2 separate regions of the Homo sapiens genome follow, and region 2 is linked to region 1. A link means that fine-mapping ties the variant in region 1 to the plasma level of a protein whose gene starts in the linked region. Region 1 holds a variant in brackets. A gene starts in the other region. All regions are shown on their reverse strands.

Region 1 (2,889 bases):
GGGCTGAGCGTGGCCCCCAGCAAGACGTGTCCACTCCCGACCCCGGAACCTGTATGTCCTTATTTGGGAACAGGGTTTCTGCATATGTAATCGAGTTCAGGATCCTGGATTGTCTGAACGCAGCAGCAAGTGTCCTTGTAAGGGGGAGAACAGGAGGCGCAGACACAGGGAAGGTCACCTGAATGGGGACGGAGGCAGGGACTGGAGCGCTGAGGCCACAGCCAAGGGACACCTGTGTCTAACAGGAGCTGGGAGAGGCAGGAAGGAGCCCCTCTGGGAAGCCTGGAGGGAGCGTGGCCCTACGGGCCCCTCGACTGCAGAGCTCTAACTCCCAGGACTCAGTGGGTGAATTCTCATTGTTTGAAGGCCCAGCTGTGGTGCTTTCTTCTGTCGGCCACAGGAAACTGACGACCACCCAAACCACCGATTTCATTTTCAAACATGAACAGAAGCCGAGAGGTCAGAGCTGGGGGCCCGCTCGTCCCTCCTGCCTGGCAGAAGCTTCTCCGGCAGCTGACGCCCACCCCCTCACGCTCAGGCCGCCCTCTCCTCATCACCAACAATAAATCGATCCTGTTTTTAAAGTGCATCTCTCGGGGAGTGCCAGGGGGCAAAGCGCTGCAGGAACTGGTACCAGAGAGATGGAAGCTCCAGGCCCAGGGCTGAGACCAAGCCAGGTCAAGGCCGGGACACCAGAGCCCCAGGACGCAGCGGCTCTCCCTGGGACACAGCACGTGTGCCGGGTAGACACAGGTCTGGGGGACTCAGGAGTGGATGGCCACTGGCCAGCTCCCCGGGCGCCAGGCCCAGAGGGCCCCAGCCACACCCTCCCAGGAGGCCTGGGCACCTGGGAGTCTCTCACCCAGCGGCTGAGGAAGCACCATCGGCCCTGCTCACCCACCCTCCGGCTGGGGGTCTCTTGCCTGGCGGCTGAGGAACCACCATCAGCCCTGCCCACCCACCCTCTGGCTGCGGGCATTGGCTGCAACCTGGCCAGGGAAGGCTTTTGCAGAACTTGGAGGGTTCCCGGGGCTCTGGCAGGCAGCACTGGGCTGGGTGGAGGGCACCGGGTCGTGATGCTGAAAGGAGACAAACGAGGAAGAGGCACCAGGAGAGGCCAAGGCACAGAGACCATGTGGAACAAGCAGGCACACACGCACACTCACACAGAGGCACACACACTCATACATGCACACTCACACAGACGCACACACACACATGCACACTCATACACAGACACATACACGCACACACACAATGTGTGCACACATACATGCACGCACACACAGGCACACACATGTACACTCAGGCACACACAC[T/ACT]AATGCACACACAGACATGCACACTCATACACATACACAGGCACACACACTCATACACGCACACTCACACATGCATACACAGGCACACGTACACTCATACAGGCACCACACTCACACGTGCACAAAAGCACGCACACTCATACACACATACACACACAGACATGCACACATACACAGGCACACTCGTACACAGGCATGCACACTCATACGCGCACACACATACACGCACACACACACTCCATGCATACACACACAGGCACACACAGACATACATGATCACAGGCACACATACATGCACACACACACGCACACAGACACATACACAGGCAGACATACAGGCACGCACACATACACACACATACACAGACATACATGCACACACAGGCATGCACACAGGCACACACACTCATACATGCACACACACAGGCATATACACACGCACACACAAAGGCACGCACACACCAATACACGCACACTCAGACAAGCACACACATTCATACATGCTCACACAGGCACACACACATACACTCACAGTCACACACACTCATACACGCACACACGCACATGCACACTCATACATGTACACAGAGGCACACATACATGCACACACAGGCACACACTCGTACATGTACATTCACACAGGCACACACACTGCTGCATGCCCATGCAGACACCGGCACACACTTGCACACACAGACACACGCACACAGACAAGCATTTGAGCTCACACACACTCGCACACACAGGTATTCACACGCATGTGCACACGTGCACACACACTCCCACAGGTATTCACATGCACGCGGACACACACTTGCACACATACACCCCCACACAGGTATTCACATGCACACACACACACTTGTGCACACACACCCCCACACACAGGTATTCACATGCACACACACACTTGCATACACACCTGCACACACAGGTATTCACATGCACACACACGTGGACACAGTCATGCACTTGCACTCATGCTTGTGCACACACAGAAGCGTGCACTCATGCACTCAGTGCTGGGGTCTGAATCTGAAATTCCAGTGTTGAAATCTTCACCCCCAAGGCGATGGGTTAGTGGTGGGGCCTTTGGGATGCGATGAGGTCATCAGGGTGGAGCCTCAAGAATGGGACCAGTACCTGATGAGGGGGCCCCAGGGCGCTTCCTCCCCCTACACCATATAAGGACAGAGAAAGCGCCACCTATGCAGCAGGACATGGTCCTCACGAGACACCCAGGACGCGGATCCTCACCAGACACCCAGGCTGCCTTGATCTTGGACCTCCAGCCCCCAGAACCGTGAGCAGTGACTGGCTGTCGTCTGAGCCGCCCAGGCTGTGGCATTCGCTAAGAGCCGCCTGAGCTAAGACAGCCACACAAGCCCACACTCACACATTCACTCTTACACACTCACCCAAATGCTCACACTTGCTCACACGTGCACACGCTCCCACGGTGTGTACAGGTGCACATGTACATCCTCACACACACACACGCACGTGCACACACGCTCCCCCTGCATTCACCTCCACAGCCACAGGGAAACGAGGAATCCAGGATGAGCCC
Region 2 (2,889 bases), not on the chromosome of region 1:
TCTTCCCTTCTCAGCAGATTCCTCCCCATGAGCACCCGCCTGGAACCACCACCCCACATCCTTTTCTACGCCTCTCACCCCAGTGCACTTCCCTGCTTCTCAGGCCAGATCCGACACCAGATCGCTCTGGATCCCTGCCCCTGTTCCTTCAAAAGTGGAGCCTTCCTCAACCTAATCCAGCCTCCCGGCCCTGCCCTGTGGCCCCTCAGGGAGATCCAGACAACCCCCAGGCTGGGGCAGCCTCCCTCTCCCATTTCACAGCTCAGGCAGGTAGCGCTCCCCACCCCCAACCTGCTCCAACTCAGGGGCCGTGCACTGGGGGGCAGGGGGGCTTGAAATGGGGAGAAAGTCTAGCCCCTCCCCCTCCGGGGTGGAAGAACCAGAGGGGCAGCATTCCAGGGAAATGGGGGGGCGCCTAGCACAGAGAGTGCAGAGACACCAAGAGATGGGTGAGAGACAAGAGGCAGAGACTTAAGGAGGGAGACAGAGACCCAGGGAGAGGAAATAGAGAGACCCAAGCGGAGAGAACAGACTCAGGGACAGGGAACAAGACGACCCAGGGAGACAGAATCGAGAGACCTGGGGAGAAAGAACAGAGTGACCTGGGGAAAAAGAATGGAGACAGCTGGAGAGACCCTGGGATTGCAGGGGCGTGAGATTGGGAGGCACTGACACGGGGAGGCAGAGACGCCGAGGAAAACAGAAAGCAGCCGAGACAGAGACGCCGGCACGGCGATGGGGAGCCGGGACGGGACGGGACGGGACGCGGGGCGGCCACTGAGTGAACTTTCGGAGAGGGTCCGAGTGGCCACGTCCTCACGGGACAGGTCGCTCCAGGGCCTCCAGGGCGTTGCACCCGGTTGGGGGCGGGTACAGCCCGTTCGGCCCCTCCCCATCCCGTGCTCGCGAACGAAGGGGGTGGGGGGGCTTCAAACTCGCGCCCGGCGCAGCCCGGGACCGCACGTGCGCCGGGGCCGCGAGCGAGACCCGGGCGCGCCGGCTGCGGATCCCCCGCCGGCTGGGAGGGGGCGCCTGTGCGGCGGGGGCGGGGGCGCGGCCTGGACCCGCCCGGAGCCCGGGGCTGGGGGGTCTGAGGGCCGCCCCCGGAGCGCGTCCGCGCTAGAAGGGGGGACGAGGCGGGACCGATGAGGGGGAGCAAGAACGCAAACGGGAAACTTTGCGCTGGGTGGGGGGGGCGGGCTGCGGCTAAGGTGCGGTGGAGAGGGAGGGAGGCGGCGAGGGGCGGCGGGGAGCGAGCCAGCCAGCAGCGCTGGGGGCGCGTCTGCCGCGGGGTGAGCGGGGAGGAGCCGCCAGGCTGGGGCGTGGAGGGGGGGCTTCGCCGAGGCTGCGGGCGCGGCAGGTGGGGGCGCGGCCCGGCCTCAGCGGCGCCCTCGTCCCCCCCGGGACCGCCCCCAGCTCCGCCGGGTGGACTAGCGGGGAGGGCAAGGAGAGCGGGGAAGGGACGGGAGCGGAGGGGGCTGGTGGGGGGCCGGGGGGTCACTCACCGCCTATCCAGGGGCCGTCGGTCCGCATGTCCCCCCGCAAGCCGCTAGGGCCGCTGCTCCCACTCCTCTGCCGCCGCCGCCTCCACCTGGTCCCGCTCCCGCCACCGCCACCCGAGCTGGAGCCGGAGCCGGAGCCGGAGCCGGAGCCCGAGCCCGAGCCGGAGCCGAAGCTGGAGCCGCCGCCTCTGCCGCCGCCACCGCTCCCGCCGCTCCCGCGCCAGCTCCAGCCGCGCGCTCCCCTCGCGCTCGCGCCCGCGCCCCTGCCCCTGCCGTGCGCGCCCCCGGCGGCGCCCCTCCCCTCGTGCACTCTCGCTCGTAGAGCCGCGGAGCCGCTGAGGCCCAGACAGGCCACAACCCAACGCCAAGTCGAAACCGACCGGAACCTCAATATTGAACCCGAACCCCAATAATGAACATAGACAGACCAAACTCTGATACTACATCCAGATCCTTCTAGTGGCTCCCAGCCCTAGCATGAACCTAATACCACTCTAGGACCCCATTTCCTCCCCATACAGATCTGAACCTGATACTGAGCCCACACCTTGCCCTAAACCCAATATTGAGTCCAAAGCCCTTAATCTGCCCCCAAATTAGCACAAGTAGTAATTTTGTTGTGAACCTCTATACTGATCCCAAATACCAATTCTGACTCTAAATCTCTTTATTACTTCTACTTGCCCTAACCTTGATAGTGACGCTAGCACCAACGCTGGACCTTAAATGGAACCCTGTACTAATGCTCAGCCCCCAGTCCCTAAATGAACCCTAAAGTCCAAAAGCTACCTTGCTATGGACCCCAGTTATCTCTCTTCTGAACCCCAAGCCTTACATAAAACTCCAGTACTGCTCTCCCATTCCCAGATCAACACCAATGCACTCTGAATTCGATTCTCAATTCCAGAGTTGGGATTGGGTCACCATAAAAGGACCCCCAAACACAGATACTGACCTGAAACCCCACCCAAACTTGAGACCATTTAGGACCCTAAACCAACCCAGCTTTAATAATAATCTTGGAACCCAAGATAAGACTGGCTTTGCAGAAACTCCACACAAAGCCCCTTCATCCTCATGTTCACCCTCCACTTCTCTGACCTAGTGTCAACCCCAAGCAGAGACTGACTAATACCCCAATATTATACCAATTCCAGCTGTGAACCTTACATTGGCCTCGGAATTAAAGACATGATAATGCCCTCTAAATGTAATTTAAATGTCAGTACTGAGTTTCTGACTTCTCATACCAAACTCAAATAATGACCCTAGAAATTTCTGGGTGAAACCAATAACCTACCTGAAGATTTATTCCAAGACCTACTGATCAGAGGGATTTGATGAGCTTCAATCCAAGCGCCCCTGCCTCCAGACCCCGCCCCCACGC

Alleles and levels. Positions count from the first base shown, and alleles are read on the strand shown. Strength reflects both the effect of a copy and how common the allele is.
In carriers of allele T in region 1, the plasma level of the protein whose gene starts at base 1,713 in region 2 tends to be higher than with ACT alone (weak association).

What was found. A credible set is the group of variants that fine-mapping cannot tell apart. PIP is the chance, under the fine-mapping model, that this variant and not a neighbour inherited with it causes the effect. The UK Biobank Pharma Proteomics Project read protein levels with antibody pairs (Olink). The fine-mapping took linkage between variants from a reference panel, not from the people measured, so its PIPs are less certain.
Region 2: it holds the start of PTPRF, and the variant in region 1 is the best candidate, but not a certain one, in a credible set for the plasma level of the PTPRF protein (UK Biobank, PIP 0.51).

The regions. Positions count from the first base shown.
Region 1 is chr4:3,467,494-3,470,382 of GRCh38, reverse strand. The region is part of intron 2 of DOK7 (docking protein 7); the gene reads right to left. Among named protein-coding and RNA genes, the nearest start is that of DOK7, 5.6 kb to the right of the region's middle. RefSeq lists an enhancer at 2,098-2,705. The variant T/ACT (reference allele first, on the strand shown) is at 1,320.
Region 2 is chr1:43,529,707-43,532,595 of GRCh38, reverse strand. PTPRF (protein tyrosine phosphatase receptor type F) reads right to left here and starts at 1,713. Exons shown (of 34, transcript NM_002840.5): 1 at 1,506-1,713. RefSeq lists an enhancer at 295-867 and a silencer at 933-1,002.